4 separate regions of the Homo sapiens genome follow, and regions 1, 3 and 4 are each linked to region 2. The links come from fine-mapping of genetic effects on plasma protein levels. A gene starts in region 2. Each other region holds a variant in brackets. All regions are shown on one strand. Distances are between the middles of the regions. Region 1 overlaps IL1RAP (interleukin 1 receptor accessory protein). Region 2 holds the start of IL1RAP (interleukin 1 receptor accessory protein). Region 3 overlaps IL1RAP (interleukin 1 receptor accessory protein). Region 4 overlaps IL1RAP (interleukin 1 receptor accessory protein).

Evidence for each region. PIP is the chance, under the fine-mapping model, that this variant and not a neighbour inherited with it causes the effect. Protein levels are from antibody-based Olink assays in UK Biobank. Linkage for the fine-mapping came from a reference panel and not from the study's own genotypes, which makes the PIPs less certain.
Region 1: its variant is fine-mapped to the plasma level of the IL1RAP protein (UK Biobank, PIP above 0.99).
Region 3: its variant is fine-mapped to the plasma level of the IL1RAP protein (UK Biobank, PIP 0.93).
Region 4: its variant is fine-mapped to the plasma level of the IL1RAP protein (UK Biobank, PIP above 0.99).

Annotation. Positions count from the first base shown.
Region 1 is chr3:190,635,285-190,640,284 of GRCh38, reverse strand. The region is part of intron 9 of IL1RAP (interleukin 1 receptor accessory protein); the gene reads right to left. Among named protein-coding and RNA genes, the nearest start is that of LINC02013, 62 kb to the left of the region's middle. The variant A/G (reference allele first, on the strand shown) is at 2,423.
Region 2 is chr3:190,511,136-190,516,403 of GRCh38, reverse strand. IL1RAP (interleukin 1 receptor accessory protein) reads right to left here and starts at 2,319. Exons shown (of 12, transcript NM_002182.4): 1 at 2,185-2,319. RefSeq lists enhancers at 1,129-1,628, 1,629-2,130, 2,883-2,972 and a silencer at 2,383-2,732.
Region 3 is chr3:190,578,204-190,583,203 of GRCh38, reverse strand. All of the region lies in intron 3 of IL1RAP (interleukin 1 receptor accessory protein), which reads right to left. Among named protein-coding and RNA genes, the nearest start is that of IL1RAP, 67 kb to the right of the region's middle. The variant C/T (reference allele first, on the strand shown) is at 2,649.
Region 4 is chr3:190,641,488-190,646,487 of GRCh38, reverse strand. It overlaps IL1RAP (interleukin 1 receptor accessory protein), which reads right to left. Exons shown (of 12, transcript NM_002182.4): 10 at 2,091-2,240; 11 at 646-789. It also overlaps the pseudogene RN7SKP296. Among named protein-coding and RNA genes, the nearest start is that of LINC02013, 55 kb to the left of the region's middle. RefSeq lists an enhancer at 53-625. The variant C/A (reference allele first, on the strand shown) is at 2,780.

The DNA of each region.
Region 1 (5,000 bases), 120 kb before region 2:
GAATGTGATCTGTGAGAGAAAAGACAAAAAAGAGGTAAATGCTACGATCACTCTGGCTTTTCGATTAAAGGCACCTTTTAAACTGTGGCACAGAGAAGGGAAAGCCAAAATGAGAAAGTGGTCACACTGAGCTAAAGAGATAGAAATGAGAGTTCAAGGCTGCTGTTGAGTCAGATTGCATTTATAGAGAAGAGAACTATTTAGAGATGGAACTCTAGAAATCTGCACAGGATTATCTCGAGTCTTCGGCCAAATACAAAGCTACACATATTTGGGGGAATACTTTAAAAGGTTAGGCAAAGAATAGCTGGGAACAGATCAACTCTAGGAGCACATGAAGGGCTGTGAGACAGTTGGGTACAGGCCACTCAGAGTGAAGAGACTGTGTTTAGCTCCCCAGTATTAATTAGAGACTTCAGGTATGACATGCTTTAGAAGTAGGTCCAATCTAACCTTACAGAAAAGGCTATTTTAGACCTGCTTTAACAAAGATAAGATGCTTTTTTAAAAGCAAGCAGTTATGCAAGTAATTTAATTACCCTCTAGAACAAAATTTAACACTGTCTTACGAAATTCAGAACTCAAAATTGTAACATCCATAATATCCAGCATATAATTTTTAAAAAGCTATATAAAAAAGCAAAAAAGTCTATATTAGCTAATAAAAAGATAGCTAATCAAAACAGAACAAAAATTGACAAAAGTGGTGGAATTATCAGATAAACACCTAAAAATGAGTATTCTATGTGTATTTGTTCAATTTTTTTAAAACCATGAACATTGTGAACAGCAAATAGAAAATATCAATAGGGACCTTTCAATGAAGATATGGAAATTCAAAAGCTAAAAGATACAATTCTGAAATAAAGAAAATGCTATCGATTAGACATCACAAAGAAAATGGCCAGCATACATTGGAAACTACACAAACACAGAGCAGGGAAAAGGATGAAAAAGGAAGAAATAAAAATAACGAGATCAGTGATCTGTGGGGCACTACTAATTGGATAGCAGTGGTCTATCCTAATTTCAGCTGGAGTACTAAAAGAAGAGAAAGAGTGAGGGGGAAAGCTAGACATATTTGAAAAGAAAATGGCTGAAAATTGTTCACAGTAAAGGAAAAATATAAACACATAGAACTGAGAAGTTTAATAAACTCTAAGTAAGAAACACACACACACAAAGGACACCACAGGCCATCATAATTTGATTTTCAAAATCAATAAAGAAAAGGTGATCTTAAAATCTGCCAAAGAAAAACATAACAAATACATAAAGGGCACAAAAATAAACAAGAACAACAGCAGCAACAAAAACTGCCCCGTTTGCATTTTAAATAATATTAGCCAGGAGACAATGGAATACCTTAAAGGGCTGAAAGAAAAGAAATAGATACACTTTCAACATATCCTGTGAAAATATTGACAAAGGCACCAGAGAAACATAATGAGAAAGTAAAAATCTTTCCAATTAATTGTGCTGGAACAACTGGATATCGGTATGAAAGGAAAACTGAACTTCAATTTCTACTACACACCATTCATGAAAAAAAAGAAAAGAGATGGACTATAGGCCTAAACAAAGGTGAACCTTCCTGACTATGGGTAAGCAAAGCTTTCTTAGAACACAGAAATTAATAATCATTAAAGAAGAAGTTAATAAATTACATCTCATAAAAAATGAGAACCTCTGCTCATTAAAACACTTCACGAAAAAACAAATTGTCATGCAACAGACTGGGGAAAAGTATTTGCAAAACATGTGTCTGACAAAGGACTGGTATCCAGGACAGATGAAGAACAGCTAAGATTCAATAATAAAATACAAACTATTTATAAAATGAACAAAATGTTTGAACAGTCACATCAAAAAATACATACAGATGGCCAATAAGCACATGAGGTGTAAGTGCTCAGTATTTTGAGACATCAGGGAAATGAAGAATTAAACTACAGTAAGATACCACCATACACTCACCTATAATTGCTAAAACAAAGAAGGCTGACAACACCAAATCCTTAAGATGTAAATATGTTGATGGTGGAATATGGAATGATACAGCCACTTGGGGAAAAAAAAAGGTCTAACAGTTTCTGATAAAACTAAGTCAGTAATTCCACTCATAGGTATTCATCTCAGAGAAGTAAAAGCGGTAGTCCATTAAGAAACTTGGATAAGAAAGTTCACAGAAGCTTTATTCAAAAGACCCCAAAACTGATAACAACCCAAATGTTCACCACCCAGAGAATGAATAAACAAATCATTCTGCATTCTTAAACAAAACAAAAACAAAACAAAACCACTCCATGGCAAACAAAAGGAGAAAATGCCTGATACACACAACAGCATGGGTGAATATCAAGAACATTTGCTGAGTGAAGGTACAGTTATACAGTAGCGCATTCTGTATGGGTCCACATAC[A/G]CAGAGTTCTAGAATATATAAAAAAAAAACTATTCTAAAAAAGGAAATAAAAACAGTTGTATTGTTTGGGGAGGTGGGGAAGGTGGGGGTAGAAAGGATTGACTGATAAGGGGAAGAATGTTACTTTCTGGTGATGGTAATATTCTATATCTTAATAGGATATTAGGTAATGCATATATATATGCATTTCTCAAAAATTATCAAATGGTACACTTGAATTATGCAATTTGTTACTTTATGCAAATTTTACCTAGAAAAGAAACCTACAAATAAATATTAAAACACTGATAATGATAAGGAGCTTAAATGTTTACTGATGTCTGCATCTACTTTGAAATGTATCAGAAAATAAGATGGATTGATATACTGGCAGAAGAATGAATAGACATGTGATAAAGCAAAGATAACCAATGTTAATGGTAGGATCTAGGTAGGCTGTATTACTGCTCACTGTGTAATTCCTTAAAATCTTCCATATATTTGAAAACTTTCTTAGTAAAGTTTTGAAATATAAAAATTAAAATGAAATAGGACATTTTCAGATTAAAACAAAGCTGAGAGAATTTGTCACCAGCAGATGTACCAGAAACATTAAATAGTTCTTCAGATTAAAATGTTACCAAGAATGGATAGTGTCAGAAATAAAAAATAAGCAAATAAATTTAAAAAAAGATCAGTTCTTAACTTAATAGAAGACAGTTATTTAAAGCCAAACTTTCACAATACATGTTGGTACACTGTAATTCATGCAAAACCAAAATGTATTATAGCACAACACAAAGGATGGGAGGGAAGAAATGGAAATACGCCATAGTAAGTTTCTCATAAAATATGTAAAGTGATTAATTCAAGATCAACTGATAAGTTTAGGAAAAATATTATAAACTCTAGAGGAAACAAAACAAAACAAGCCCCAAACAAAAAGGAAGAGCCAAAAGCTCAAAAAAGTGATAAAATAAAATACAATGAAAATACCAATTAGTCTAGAGGAGATAAAAATAAAGACAGGTGGACAACAAATAGCAAGATGGTAAACTTAAAGGCAGTCATATTAATAATTAAAGAAAAATGGATTAAACATTCAAGTTAAAAGCCAGAAATGATCAGATTGGATCCAATACCCAATAATATGCTGTAAATAAGATACATACATTAAGTATAAAGTATAAGTATAAAAGCATAAAGATGCTGATAGGTAAAATAAAATAATGGAAAAAACATATACTAATTATAAGAAAGCTGGCAGTGAGCTGAGATCGCACCACTGCACTCCAGCCTGGGCGACAGAGCAAGACTCCGTCCCTCTACCAAAAAAAAATTAATTAATTAAAAAAGTAAAAAAAAAGAAAGCTGGAATGGCTACATTCATATTAGACACAGAGTATTAACAGAGAAAAAACGGACATTTCACAATTTAAGAGTCAATTCATGAAAAAGACTTGTCAATCCTAAATAAGCATGTATTAAATATCACAGTTCCAAAATACATGAGACAAATACTGGCAGAACTGAAGAGAGAATTGGAAAAATCCATATTATATGTAAAGATTTCAACACCATTCTCTCTTTTAATAACTGAATAACAAAGTATATTGGAAAAATCAGAAGGATATTGAAGACATGAACAACACTGACACCAATTTTCTTAGTTGACATTTACTGGACACCACTCGAAACTACAAAATATATGTCTTTTTCAAATGCATATCAAACATTTACCAAGATAGGCAGTCTGCAAATACTTTTTTTTTAAGTACCAATAAGCTTAAAAAGAATAAAATCATGCAAAGTATGTTCTTTGGACACATCAGAATTAAATAAAAGATTAGAAATTAGAATCAAGTGTGCAGCACTGTGGCAAAGCTCTCATTCCCCATTCCCTCGGTTTTCACAGATACCCTGGAAATTGAACCTGAAGGATAAGAAAAGGAAGGCTTGTACTAGTTCATATACACAGCCAGCACTGAGTCCGGAACTTGAACCCAGGTCTATCTAGAACAAAAACCTATGTTTCTCCACTCCGTAATGTAGTTCTCTCAGGTAGTTCTAAGTTGGAGATACCTGCTCCCAGACTTTTTTTCTAATTTTTTACATTAGCTAAACTTAAATGACAATATGAAATGTTACAAATAACTATCAAGAGTGAACATAAAGCCAACTCTAAAATTCAAATGAATTTTCATATATAATGTAGTAAAACGATCTGGAAAATTCCAAGCATGTTTAAATTAAAAAACACACACTGAAATAACCCTTAGGTCAAAAAGAAATGAAAACAGAAATTAGAAAGTATTTTGAACTTAATAATAACAAAAACTCGACATTTCAACATTTGTTGGATTTAGTTAAACTAATCCTATGAGGAAAACACATAGCTCAGAATACTTATATTGGAAAAGAAGAATTACTTAAAAATCAGTGATACAGCTTACATTTTAGGATGACTGACAAAAAGAAAATGAAGTGCAAAGTATGCAAAAAGAGGAAAATAAGTATATGAATAAAGTAAATAAATATATAAACAACAGAGAAAAATCAATAAAAATATGTTCATTGAAAAAATTAGCAAAATTGAGAA
Region 2 (5,268 bases):
ATCTCCCTTCCATCCTCATGATCTGACCTTATTTTGAACATTTTCCTTTTCCCCCACAAGGCCCCTGTCTCTCAGGCACACATTCAGTCATATCCCAGCCAGCTCACCACAATGCATGTACATGGAACAAGCTGATAGAAGCAGGTGATCCCATCCTTTACTAATGCTTGGTGCGGGAGGTACTTAAGTGGGCACCACTGGGCTCTTATCTTCCATCAAGATGTATCACACTCTGTTCTCAAGCACTTACCAATACTGCATACAAATGCTATGGCCTGTGAAGGAGGCAGCCAACTACAAATGCTGGACACTCAATTTAAGGACGCATGGCAAAGCCAGTAGATAGTAGTAAATTATTGCATGAAGTTCATCAGAATAAAATCAATTGTCATGAGAAGGGTTAAGGGTGTGGGAGGGAATCCATTTAACTTTAAAATACCAATAATACAGGAAGACTAGTGTGGGCATGTGAATGTCTGTGTGTTCGTGTTTAAATAAGGCAAGTTTGTGTCCAGAAAGGTTTGCATTTAGCAGCATCTCTGTACAATCCAAAAGAAATATATGAGAATTTTGTTTGTTTTCTGATACTAGATGAAAAATGTAAGGTTGCTCGACTGACCTAAGAGAGCAAGGATAGAAGGCTTAGAATAATCTGTAACACAGCTGCAACTTCCAACTTTGTCTTCTTGTCTTTCTGCCTCTCACCCATTTCAAGACCCTCTTTGTCAATAAAGGATGTCTCAGATCAGGGCAGTTCACAGGCCTGAGGTTTGACCTAAAAACTAGTAGGAAATTCATATCACCGAGAAACATCAATTTTACATTTCGAGCTAAGCATCCATGATCCACATCACATATGGACAACATTCAGAAAATTCTTATTATAAAAGAGTTGCTCAAATTCAAAAGAAGAAAGACACCACATTTACAGATTTTTTTAAAATGCCTCTGTAAGATGGTATGAAATCACCTTTCTGAAAACCCACTGTCTGCAAGGTTACTATGTAACAATATTTACAATAGTTGCCATTGGTTTTGAACCAACCAGATGCCAGGCCAGGCACTGTGCTAAACATGCTACTTGAATGATCCCATTTCATCCTTCCAACTACCCAAAGGGCTCATTGTGACCATTATAAATCTCCATTTTTTGGCTGGAAAAAAAAAAAAGGAAGAAAGAAAGAAAAGAAAAACCCAGTATCGGAAAGGTGAGATAACTTGCCCAAGTTCACACTGCTAATACATGGAAGAGCTGGAGTCAAAACTCAAGTCCTCTTTCTCATCCAGTAGCTAAACCAGGGATCTGTACAGCAGAGCAGCAGAATGCTTCGCGTGGCGCCCTGGTTCACAATTTCACAACCAGAAGGTGGAGGGAAGACAGGCTGTGGGCTAGCTCTTAAAGGAAACAGCCGAAGTTTGCTTTTATGTTTGTGATTTTCTCTTTAACTCAGCTTCCTTGCTCCCTCTCAGTATTTAGAAGAGGGAAGGGGCTCTATGGTTCCATGAAGTCAGCTCTTCCCAAGTGAGGGGCACCCTGTGCCCCACAGGGCCACTAGCTCCGCTTCCTCCGGGGCTGGGAAGAAACAGTACCATAGGAGGTCACTGGCGCCCGGGCCTCGCTCCTCTCTCCCCGCGCTCCTCCAGAAGCTGGTCCGACACCCTCTGAAGGGGCATCTTTCTGAGAAAGCAGGTCAGGGGAAGAGGGAGTGAGGCTGCAAGCAGCATTTTCCCAGGCTGTCACAGCTCTGCGCTGAGAGCGACGTGATACCGAGTGGGCGTGCTGGGACACACCGCTTCCTTCTGTCCTCGGCGCTTCCAGCAGCGGTCTGGAGAAACCAAGGAGGAGATGGGGGCGGGGGGTGGTAGCGGGGAGGGGGCGGTGAGGAGGAAAACAAGGGTAGACCCCTCAAAGGGCTGAGGATGGGGGCGGCAACGAGCAGACGTCCCACAACCGCGTTACTTAAATCCCTGCAAAGCAAAGATGGGTCTCTGAACGTTTGGGTTCGAATCCGGGCTCCAGTCCTAACTAGCAGTATGACCTATCCCAGCCGCTGCCTCGTTCTGTGCCTCAGTTTCCTCTTCTGTAAAGTAGGAGGGTTTAACGATAGGATCTCTAAGAATCCGTCTACCCTGAGATTCTGCGGCTTGGTGACTTCTGAGCCCTCACGGCGGCGCGAGACTCACCTTTCTTGGGAAGCTGAGAGGGCGCAGCAAAAGCAGCCGGGATGGGTGCAGTGTCGCCGGGCACTGCTTCCTTCCGCGCCTCTGGCCAAAGCGGACCCCGGAGACCTGGATCCCGGCAGTCTTCCCCAGTGAGCCTCTTACTTTCCGCCGCACTTTCTTTTCCCCCTTTGGGGCTCCTCCCCCGGAGCGGCGCGATTGGCCACGGCCTCACGGCTCAGGCTCCACCCGCCGCCTTGGCTCGCGATCCACCGGCGCTCTGGGCTTCCAGGAGCTGCGGCCGCGGGGCGGCGTCCTGGACGGTCCCGCCCGCCGCCAGGAGGCGCGGCGCCGGGCCCGCCTGCGGACGGATGCAAGGCTGCGCTCGGCCCCTTCGGCTCCCTGCCACCGCCTGTGCGGGCTTGAGCGCGCGGGGAAAGGAGAGGGTTAGTCCTGCAGCGCAGCTCGGCACGCTGCCAGGCGCTGTGGGAAGCTACGCCCCTCACTACACACCGAGGCGCACACATGCGCTCATTGCAAGATCGTGCTCTCGCAGTTGAGATCGGTGCCACCCTGCCCTTTCTTCCTGTCTCGACGTATTTAGCAATCATGCTGCAAGGCCTTGAATCAATTCAGACTGCACGATTTTCGCAACCACCCTGTGCCGGCACAGAGCGCGGCAGGATGTAGATGCGATCTCCGCAGTCCTGAGCTCTTGCTGTCTTGAACTGACATTCATATGAGCAAGCAACAGGACATGACAGCAAGACTAAATCTGTATTGTCCACTGGTAATATACCCATTGCCTAGCACAGTGCCTGGCACAAAGTAGGCACTCAATACATGTATGGGGAACGAATAAAAGAACTAATAGGTTACATAGAAGGAAATAATCTCAAAACAAATATTTGCCTTCATTCATTTCCATTTCCCCAAGTTTTTGCAAGAGCCTTCCTTCAGCTGCCCTCTGCCACTGTAGATGGTAGTCTGTAATATATCCCGGGAAGCGTTATAAAGGCTTTCATTAAGTCATCTCTCTTGTTCAGGCACCTTCTGCTGTGTTCCTACTGCTAGTGCCTCATGATTTTTCCTGACTGGCAAGGCCCTTCATGACCTGTCCCCATTTCTGAAACCCCCTAACCAAAGCCACCTACCAGACTGACGAGTCTTCGCACATCTTCTTGCTCATCACATCTTCTTTTCTCCTCCTCCTACCTAACTGAATCCTACTAATTTATTTTCAAGAATCAAGATTCAGAGAAAGCATTTAAGGAAAAGGAGAAAAAAGATGTGAAATAAGAAAAGGGCCCAGGTGAGTGGGAAGGAAATGAAACCAGCAGGTGCCCGTGCTGCTAAAGGTGCACAGCAGTACGAAACTCAGAGGCTGCCCCTGCCCTGGCGGAGCTTCAGTTCCTAAGGTGAAATATCAGTGTAATTGGAGCCATAGAAATGTTCATGATACTTTACTTCTTGACATCACTTATGAAAATTAATTGCTCAAAATTTTTATTTATCTCAGGATACCTGGGACCCAGCACCTGCTCACAACATTGTCACTGAACCAAAGAGAAAATAATCCAAAAGAATTTAAAATGTTACCTGTATGAAGCAACAATAAAACATTTTCTGATTTATTATTCATTCCTTAAATATATTCTGGGCACAGACTTTTATATATATATAGTACACTGAAGCATTTACACAGTGCTTACAAAATAAAAAGGTGCAATCATAAGGACTTTGTGTATATTAATTCAGGTAACCCTCAATACAACCTGGAGGGTGCTATTATTATCTCCAGTTCATAAAGGAGATAAAGGGAATTTAAATAACTTGACCAAGGCTACAGGCCTACAAGTGGAGAATACAAAATGAGACTAGAGACACTCGACGTTCATGCTCTCAGCCGCTACTCAGTCTCATGTACTACCTAGAAGCCAAACAGATGCTAGTAATTCAGAATTGAACCAGATGTATATTCCCGGACATTGAAGGGCTACTCATAGCTTAAGGAAGATAACATTAAGATGAATAATCATATAGACAAATATTCATAGTATATTGTAGTTTGAACACAATATAAATGGTTGGAAATGAAAATGATTAGTTAACCAACGCTGTCTACGCACAGAATAAAATATTTGCATCATAACTATCATATTATGGAAATATGTCTACAAAGAAAAAGGCTTACAAAATAAGGTTGAGTAAAAGTTGTGGAGAGATGAACACCAATTGAAAGGAATGTGAAAAAATGTTGATATGTTAGGATTACAGAAATAGAAACATCTCTTTTTCCTTTTACATTTAAGTGAAATAAACCAAGCACAGAAAGACAAATTTTGCAAATTCTCACTCACACGTGGGAGCTAAAAATTAAACAAAGGAACTGAGATATGAGAGTAGAATGATGGTTACCAGAGGCTGGGAAGAGTAGCAGAGGCAAGGGAGTTGTGGGGAAGGGAGGATGGTTAACGGTTGCAAAAATATAATTAGCTGGAATGTATAAGACCCAGCACTTGATAGCACAACAGAGTGACTACAGTCAACAATAATTAATTATGCATTTTAAAATAAGTAAGAGTGAAATTGGAATGTTCCTCAAAGAAGTGACAAATGGTCAAGGTGATGACACCCTGTTGTCATTACCCTGATGTGATTATTACACATTGTATGCATGTATCAAAACATCACATGTCACCCATACATATATACACCTATTATGTACCCGTAATAATTAAAAATGAAAAAATGTTATGCTAACAATTGAGAAAAATATTTTAAAGCTATACCCATTAAATATCCATCACATACTAAACATTTGATGAATAATAGTTGCCTAAATGAATAAATGAAGCTACAAATTCATTGATGTCAGTGACTAATACTGCTGGATGTATAGAAGATGCACAATAAAATATTTTGCAATTGATTGATGTATTTGGAAAGGTATTATTATTCTCTTCTTCTCCCAGCTTTTACCCTCCACCTTTTTTTTAGGTTATCTTTAATTATCTTGCTGTAGCTGTAAGACGCATCAGGAGTTTGCTAGTCTCTTGAACCCAATCCATTCAGACATTTATCTCTACCACTCCACAGTCAGCATCT
Region 3 (5,000 bases), 67 kb before region 2:
TAGAGAAGGTCACAGACATTAATTAAGTAGTTAAATAAATAATTACCCAATTAACAACAATTGCTATTGGAGTGATTATCATGAAAAAGACGTACAGCGTATAAAGTGGATATATTAACAGGGATCTTACTTAGCCTGAGAGGTCGCTGATTAGGGCAGGAGATGGGATGTTCCCTGAGAAATGGACTTTTGAGCTGAGTGAAATAGAATGAAGATGTGAGGGACAAAGTTGAGAGGAGAGTGTGTGAAGGAAGAACTTAGGTGAGAAAGGGAATAGTACATGTGAAGTTCCTGAAGAATCTCAGAAAACTTCACTGCCAGGGGCAAGGAAAACAGTGGAATATGAAGAAGCTGAAGCAACAGGTAGGAATTTGAACATATAAGAGCATATAGGCCGCTGTAAGGAACTTAAATTTAATTCTAAGAATAATGGGACATATTCCAGGGTTTTCCACAGAGGAGACACCTGATTTAATTTACAATTTGAAATAGGTAACACTGGTTACTGTGTGAAGAATGGACTGTAGAGAGTAAAAGTGAAGGAGAAACAGCTAATTATGAGGCTACTGCAGAAAAATTTAAGAATGTGCCAGGCAGGGTGGCTCAGCCTATAATCCCAGCACTTTGGGAGGCCGAGGCGGGTGGATCACCTGAGGTCAGGAGTTTGAGACCAGCCTGACCAACATGGTGAAACCTTATCTCTACTAAAAATACAAAATTAGCCTGGGTGGTGGCGCACGCGTGTAATCCCAGCCATGTGTGAGGCTGAGGCAGGAGACTTACTTGATCCCGGGAGGTGGAGGTTGCAGTGAGCCGAGATCGTGCCACTGAACTCCAGCCTGGGCAAAAACAGTGAAACTCCATCTCAAATGAAAAAAAAAAAAAAGAAAAGAAAAGTTCAAGAATGAGATGATGTGGCTTGGACTAGGATAATACTTAAGATGGAGAGGAGCAGATAAGAGCCACATGGAAAATGAGCAAAGATGGATTGATCAAAAATGTAAAGAAATAGAAAGGAAACTTGTTTCAGAGGCTCTTAAATCTCAAACTACAGAATGCTAGCTTGTTAGAGTCAAGAACTAAGCAAATTAACAGATGTGGAAACAGATTCTGAGAGGTTAAGTAGCTTGCCCAAATCACCCAGTAAATTAGCAACAGAACTGAACTGCAGCCTCAACATCTTTTATCCTCCTTATGTTATTCCTCATTTTTATTTTTTTTAGAACCTAACTTTGACCTCCACTTTGCTTTTCATTTTTAAAACACAGTATTGGTGCCATCTGTGAGTCACGGTGAATAGCAGGGACCCTGAAACAGTTAGACATATGAGACACAAACGAGCATGAAGAAAGGAACAGGGACTATTTGTTCTTCACCATATCCTAATGCCTATCAAATACCTGGCTCATGGAAATACCTCAAACAATGGCTGTTGAATGAATAAAGTTTCTTTTCCCATATTCTTTGGCAAATATATTGAAAAATACAATAGAAAAATAATACAAGTTTCAACTGATTTAGAGTCGTCAAAACCAGGGAAGGTGGCAGAGAATCATAGGACCATAAACTGGTTGTCAAGCAACTGATTTTGAAAAATATGCTACTATCTGCTTTTGAATTCTTAAACAATTGACACAAAACTCAACATCTGGATTTTGTGAAAACTCTGCTGGGCAAGGGTTTGCTCACATTTGGAAATACGGATTCTTGTCGGCAAGCACCCAGCTTCGAATGTAAAAGGTCTCAGTCCTAATCTCATAATACAGAGCACCAACTGGTGCTTACCTACCTGCCAAGTGTGTGGTTTCTAGGCTCATTTGACTGAGCTTCTGCTTCCTGATTTGCTTTTACTGGTTACAGAAAACTTTAGATTCATTCTCTCACTGGATCTCCAAAACAGCTCTGTGGGGTATGCAGGGCTGATACTATCAGCTTCATTTTATAGATAAGGACACTGAGAGTCATACGGAAACCAGGATTTGACTTGAGTCCAGGTTTTTCTTCTCTGCCTTATACACTGTGAATTACCCAGGGCATGTTCTGATCCAGAACACTTTCTGAGCTCCCATAGCACTGAGATTTATATTTGTTACACTAACAAAAAAGGAAACACTCGAATGCCACTTTACTGAATCAGAGATTAAAGGGCTGAGTCCTCTGAAGACCTCTGAATTCACAATGACCTCTTCTGCTGTTTCTTTTTTAAAAACCACTTTACTGAGGTATGATTGACATACAGAAAGCTGTATATATTTGATGTGCCTAAAGTGAGGAGTTTGGAGATATATACACGGGCAAGAAACCATCATCACAATCTATGCCATAAACATACACATAACCTCTAAAAGTTTCCTCCTGCCCTATTTATGTATTCATTTATGTATTAATTATTTTAGTGATAAGAACACTTTATGTAACATTTAATTTCCTAGCGAGTTCTTAAGTATACAATACAGAATTGTTAACCATAGGCACTAAGCTGTAGAGTAGATTTCTAGGACTTACCTTGCGTAACTGAAACTTTGCACCCTTTGATTAACACCTCTCCATTTCTCCCCCTTCTCAGCCTCTGGCAACCACCATTCTACTCCCAGCTTCTATGAGTTTGACTATTTTAGATTCCTCATGTAAATAGCATCATGTAGTGT[C/T]TGTCCTTCTGTGCCTGGCTTATTTAACTTAGCATAATGTCCTCCAGGTCTATGCATATGGCAGGATTTCCTCCTTTCTTAGGGCTGACTGACACTCAATTGTATGATATAATGCATTCTCTTTATCCATTCTGGAAAAACACTATGGAAGTTTTGCCAAATAATTAAAAATGAGAGTAGCATTTCATCCAGCAGTCCCACTTCTTGGTAGATATTCATTGGAGTTGAAATCAGTTGAGCATAAGAGTTGAACACGAGATACACAAGAGCTGAAATCAGTTGAACATGAGATACTCACAGGAGATGTTCTCAGTTGAATATGAGAGTGCAAATACCTCAAATAGGTATATACTTCAAAATACTTCAAAAAGACATTTACAATGGCACAGTTACGTTGGAACGTAGTTGGCAGTTCTTCAAAATGTTAAGCATAGAGTTACCTTGATCCAGTAATTCAACTTACAGCTATATACCCAAGAAAAATGAAAACATATGTCCACACAAAAACTTGTACACATATGTTCATAGTAGCATTATTCATGATAGTCAAAATTTGGAAATCACACACAGGTGCATCAGGGATGAAGAATATTTCTCAATTATGATTCAATGATGAATATTATTCATCACTAAAAAATGATGTAGTGATACATGCTATATCATAGCTGTACCTTGAAAACATTGCATTAAGTGAAAACTAAATCAATCACAATATGCCACATATAATATCATCCCACTTGTATGAAATATCCGGAATAGGCAAATCTATAGAGACAGGAAGTAGACTACTGGTTGCCTAGGGCTTGGGTGGGGGAGAATGGGTTGTGGATTGGCTGCTAATCCTCAGGGCTTCGTTTTGGGGTGATGAAATGTTCTAAAATTAGATTGTTGTGATGGCAGCACGACTAATGTGTCTGGTTTTATTGCTTGCAATAAAAGGAATCTTTAGAAAAAATATAAAATAAAAGATGTCCTCAGTAATAAAAAGGTAGGAATCCCTTGGGTCTGCCAGGAAAAAGAATAATGGGCTTGGGAACAGAGGACAAAACCTTGAGTCCTGGTTCTACTTCCTATATGCAAAACTACGTCTAAACCACCTAATCTCTCCGGGCCTCTATTTCCTTATTTGTGAAGTGACAATAATAATATATTTTACAATGCTATTCTAAGATCAAATAATATAACCATTTTAATACTGTAAATACTGTATGATATCATTCATCCCTGTAATGGTTAGTGAATATAATGATAATGTGAACTGTATCTAGCACACAGTGTAAGCCCAATACAACATATGTTTATTGCATAGAGAAATGAAGAAAGGCTGATGGTTGAAGGAAGAAGTATTAATTTAACACATGCATAACCATGCCTACAGATACGGAAATGTTGATAACTAGCTTACTATGTTCTGTAGTACTGAGCTTTTAAAAACAAAACCAAAAACAAACAAAACAGAAAGCTGCCTGTAACAAAGAGATATGTTTAAATGAGTAGATAAAGTTGGTAAGAATCAGGGTGTATAGATAGGTTTAGGGCTAAGTATCTGATATGGTTTGGCTGTGTCCCCACCCAAATATCATCTTGAATTGTAGCTCCCATACTCCCCACATACCATGGGAGGGACCTAGTGTGAGGTAATTGAATCACAGGTGCGGGTTTTTCCCATGCTGTTGTCATGATAGTCTCATGAGATCTGATGGTTTTATAAAGGGCAGTTCCCCTGCACACGCTCTCTGGCCTGCTGCCATGTAGGACATGCCTTTGCTCCTCCTTTTCTACCTTCCTCCATGATTTTGAGGCCTCCCCAACCATGTGGAGCTGTGAGTTCATTAAACCTCTCTTGCTTTATAAATGACCCAGTCTTGGGTATGTCTTTATTAGCAACTTGGGAACAGACTAATACAGTATCCAATATTAGTAGACTGATGGAGGAAAGTGGGGAGTTGCTAATTTCAAATTCCAAGTATTTGGGTAGCTAATGCTTATTTTCTTGACACAACATGCTAACAAATACACAAACACAAGCCATGGTTATAATGCAGGAAAATCTATGGTAATATCTATTTTCCATTACAAAGTTTCTAATTTAGTATTCTACTGAGGTCATTTCATGAATATTGAAGTTACCTCTGTGCTAGAGAAGTTATTAACATACCAATTTACAGACAGAAACAAAGAGCCAAGGCTTAAACTATCATACCTGTCACAATTGCCTCTTGCTTGCCATCCCGAGGAATACAACAGCTCAGATCTATATACTTTCTTACTTCTAAAAATTAAGTTACCCTTTACTTCCAATTATAAATTTAATTAGATTGAAATACAGTCAGACAATAAGTAATTTCATTT
Region 4 (5,000 bases), 130 kb before region 2:
ACTGGCTATTATAAAATTTTAAAGTAACCCTCAAATGTATAAGCTGACAGGAAGAAGAAATAGACCCAAGGAAAAGGGGAATTTGAGTAGCACTATTTTGCTTGAAAAGAAAAGTGAGGGGGAAAAAAAAGAGCAAATGCCACAGGAAAATACTGTAATTATTATCAGTGAATCACATAAGGAAAAATTCTACCCACACTCTTCCGCCACTCACTTTTAGTAAAACCAAGTAAACCTCTGTCTTTCTAAAACCAAAATAAAACTGCTTTAAAAAAAAATTCTCAGTCTTGTAAAACAGTTCTAGACCAACCAGTGTAGATTAGCCTAAACCGAAAAATCTAAATGTGAATAAACAGGATGTTTACAGCTATGGCCCTTTAACAGAGCTCTAATCCACTGTGCCTCCATGCTTTTCTGACATGCATCTCTGAAAGATTGCAAGGGAAAATATTTTAATACCATAAACTGAGTTGAATAGTATACATTTCCAACGTAGTTTTATTTCTAGAGGAGTCTGTTACATCAAAGAGCATCGGACATTAAATATCCAAAGATGCTGTGCCATGACTCTCTCCCATAATGCAAAACTAATGATTCTGTCTGCCTTTCAAGGTAGCATCATTTGTACTCCTCTGAAATACCTACTTCCCCCAGGCAGACTGTCTCGGTCAAAGATGCACAGCTTGTATCCAAATTCATTCTCCAAAACTCCACGGAGGGTCAGTAATACAAATTCTTCTTCTTCCGCATTCCTTGCATAGGATACATAAATATCATACTCTTTTCCATCTAGCAAAAGGAACACAGATACAATGTAAATTAGGAAAGTTTCTCAATACCATTACATTTTTCTTAAATCTAACTTCTGCATATTAGACATTTTCATTATGTGACAGATTCCAGTGCGATTTTCTACTTGCAACAAGTCTCCACGCAAAACGACTATTTGAAGATGTAATTTTGAATGTTATCTGATATATCCTCAACTCTCATCTTACAGGTTGCTTTACAGTGGAAAAAGAGTGAGGTTTGTCCCATTCAACTGTAAATTAACAAAGCCAGAAGGTAAATCATAGGTACTGGCAATTAACACTGTAGAGAAAATTTCAACTTCCTGTCCAAGCCTATCACTCATTAATATCTTAAAATTACAAATTGAGTAAAACCTTGTGAAACTGCCTGAATTATTTATATCTGAAAAGAACTAAAATTAAAAATATAATTAGATTTAATGGACCAATCTTTCACGAAGTTGCTTAATTAGAAAAATCACATCTCATTAAAAACTATCGATTCCGTGTTTCTTCCATAAGCCTACTGAATTAAAATCTTTATGGGGTGGACCTATGAATTTGTATGTTTAAATGCTCTATTCTTTTCACTAAGCAAATTTGCACTAGAGCTGTGCTTTTCAGATGTTAACGTACACATGAATCACTTGGGAATATGGTTTAAATGTAGATTCTGAGTCAGTAGGGGCTAGGTCTAAGATTCTTCTTCTAATAAGCTACACGTGATATGTTGCTGCTGGTTCACAGATCTCTATCTGAGTACAAGGAGTGTGGATCAGCACTGTCCAATACAGCAGCCACGAGTCACGAGTCTATTGCTCACTCGAAATGTGGCTGGTTTGAATTGAGATGTGCTATAAGGATAAAGTAGAATACATTTTACATTTTGAACATTTTTAGTACCAAAGAAAACACTAAAATATCTCATTAGCTTTTTAATATTAATTGCATGCTAAAAAATAGTATTATAAATATATTTAGTCAATTCGTTATTTTTACTTGTTTCTTTTTACTTTTACTAATGTGGTCACTGGGAAATTTTAAGTAGGTAAGTGGCTCGCATTATATTTCTATTTGGAGGGTGTTAATTTAGACCGACTCACTAATTAATCCAAGAAAATAGAATAATAATCTTCGGAAAGATTTCTAATAGCAACGGTTGAAATTAAAGTTAATCTGCTTAAATCTTCCAGTTAATCTAGGTTTTTCAAATCAACATGTTTTCTTTTTTCTTTTTTTTACAACATATGTTCTAAAGATGACAGTAGAAGAGGTTTATGTCAAATTTCTGTTACTTACCTAAAATGGTTTCATCTGTTCCAAAATGAGCCCGGTAAAATAGGACCATCTCTAGCCAGTAAACATGGTAAACAACAATGAGAATCACCACTAGCAGGACTGTGGCTCCAAAACCACAAGCCAGTTCCACTGTGTATCTTGGAGCTGGCACTGGAATGAACAACAAAGAAACAGAATTGATTTCTGTGTGGTGACCACAGTGACCCACCATCCCGGCAAATAGCTGGATAAGCCAAGCAGCTTAGCTATGCACCTGCCTATGTATGAACAATCAGAGATAACATTGTAGAGTTTAGCACTATTTTAAAATACTAGACTGTGTTATGTTTATCTTTTTGTTTCCAGCACCTGGCATAGAAGGTGTTTTTTATTTGAATAGTCTTTGACAATATATAAATTAAAACAGAATCATAACATCAGGAAGGGCTTAGAAGGTCATCAAATTCAAGTCACAATTTGACACCTAAACCTCCTTACAAATATTTTTGAAAATTATCATTCCATCCTCGGTCCATATCTTGGGATGGAGTTCTCATTGCTACCTGAAGAAGTCCACGGTATTGGTAGAATTTTAATTGTTGATGCAGCTGATTTGAGTAAAAATCTCAATATTTTTCCACTATAGTTTCATTCTCTTGTCTAGTGTAGTATGAAAGGAATTTAATTGTCTTTCCTTTCTACTTGGAAAT[C/A]GGCCTCAAAAACATTATTTTCACTGTGCAAAAGCAAAGGACATCCACCAGATGCTGAATATGCTTGGTTCTGGAAGTTATTTCCCATGTTCACAGTTCTTCAGTACATATTCTAGAGGTGAACTTGCAATATCTGATTGTGAACAGATTTCTGCATTATCTACTTATTTTTTATATTTTAGGCACCTTTGCAGTTTCTTTGGAAGTATCAGAAATAGAGTGAGGTAATTCTCCAGTACTTAAAAACCAGATCTTAACTCATTAGCCCTATAATCAAGGTCTGTCACAACCAAATTACTAACCACCTTCCTTCCTTTCTCATTTACCATTGCTTTTTCATCAAAAACATCAGGAAGATTTAATATGATGCCCGTTTCTCATGCTGTGACTTCTGGCTGGAAGTCCTTTCTCTTTTTAGTTTCCAAGTCTATGCTCGAATATCATTATTTTATATAAGCTTTTATAGAATAAAATTTTTATTGAAACCTGGCTCTCCCGTGTAGAAATTTTTACTCTTCCCTTTGTTTATCATTTGATTACAGCATTACTTATTATATTGTAATTTGTCTACAGGTCAGCTTCTTCACTCCCTCTCATTAACTATACCTTTACAGTCTTTCAGGTAGAGATTATGTCTTTTTCTTCCATGATATCCCTAGAATGCCTAGTATCTCAATGAACATTTCCACATATAAGATTTTACACTTCTGGGATATTTAGAAGTCTATTACTAAATTATGTTTCACAATTTTATTTAGTTGCTTTATTAGCTTGTGATAATGAAGTTTAAGTGTTTGAAGGAGGAACAGTATATTTACTGGGTCTGAAGCAGGAGTGGCTTAAATTGTGTATTAGTCAATTTGATTATTATCTATTGACATCTACCATTTGCCAGAAGCTTCTGGGGATACAATGGTGAATAAGACGGAAAGGGTCTCTGCCCTTTTGTGGCTAATATTCTAATTCAGGGCAGTAAATATGTAAAGAAATAAATCAGCTGGTTAATTTTAAATAGTGATTAGTGCTATAAGAGAAATAAACCATGGTAATGTGATAGAGGTGATTGAAGGGTGGGACTGGGGCAAGGGCGGTGTACTGCATAAGGTGGTGAGGGAAGGCTTCTGTAAGCACCTAGAACATTGTAGATGTTAAATGTTTGCTGAGACACAGCTTAGAAGAATCTCATTCCAAGCTGGAATTGCTGTAGAGGCTCCCTGACTCCAAAGTGCGGGGATCTTTGAACACCATCACGATGAAGCTCAATTATTGATCATACAACAGTTGAAATAGAATCACGTTTATGAACCTTGAGAGCTTGTTTGGAGGTTCTAGCAGGGGAGCACAGCTACTCCTATACCCTTGACAAAAGACCAGTCCCCCTCTATTGCAGATGGTCGTCCTCTTCCACTGAGTGCGCAGCTTCGGGAAGGAGTCACGTGAAACAGTGAGGGAGGAAGGGGACACCCGCTTAGCCAGCCAGATAAGCTGAATCTACCCTGGTGATCAATGGGGTGACAGATGTTGCAGGCAGATCAGCTTCACATCCAGGAAATCACTTTTTAAAAAGGCATCTATTCAAAGCAGAAAATGGTAAGCAGCCTGGAGCTGAACCTGAAGTTCTCTTATTAAAGGGTGAATCATAGAGTTTTGATTTTATTATCCTAAACTGGGGATATTAATCCTGCCACAGGTATAGCCTGGGACTTAGCAGTGCAAAATTATTACCAGGTACTCTTCTACTCCTTCCATGAATAATGGCACCTTAAAACAAGAAAACTCCATCATAAATTCCAGAAGCTGTGTTAGTGCAGTTGCTGAAAGTTTACTAAGATCTATTTGGATAGCTGGCATGAAAATCACTGTGTCCTTGGTATTTCTGAGTACGTTATGTTAACAGTACAACAGGGTAATTTCCACTGTTATTTTCATTATTTGCTCAGTTATTTTGGCTCTCTCTGGATGAACATTTTGTAATGGGGGTGGAGGTTGTTGCTGGCTGCACGTACCTGAAATGGATTTTTGTTAAATGCCAATAGAGAGCCTGCTTAATGACCGAGAGATCAATTACCCTCATAAATTTCCCCTGCCTCATTCATTTTACTACTGCCCATTTTATTTCTAATGGGGCATTTTAATTCTGTTTTGTGTCATACAGTCATTTGTCATATTTACAGACTGTATTTTGTAGAGCAATCTTGATAAAAAGGAGTCATTAATGCTA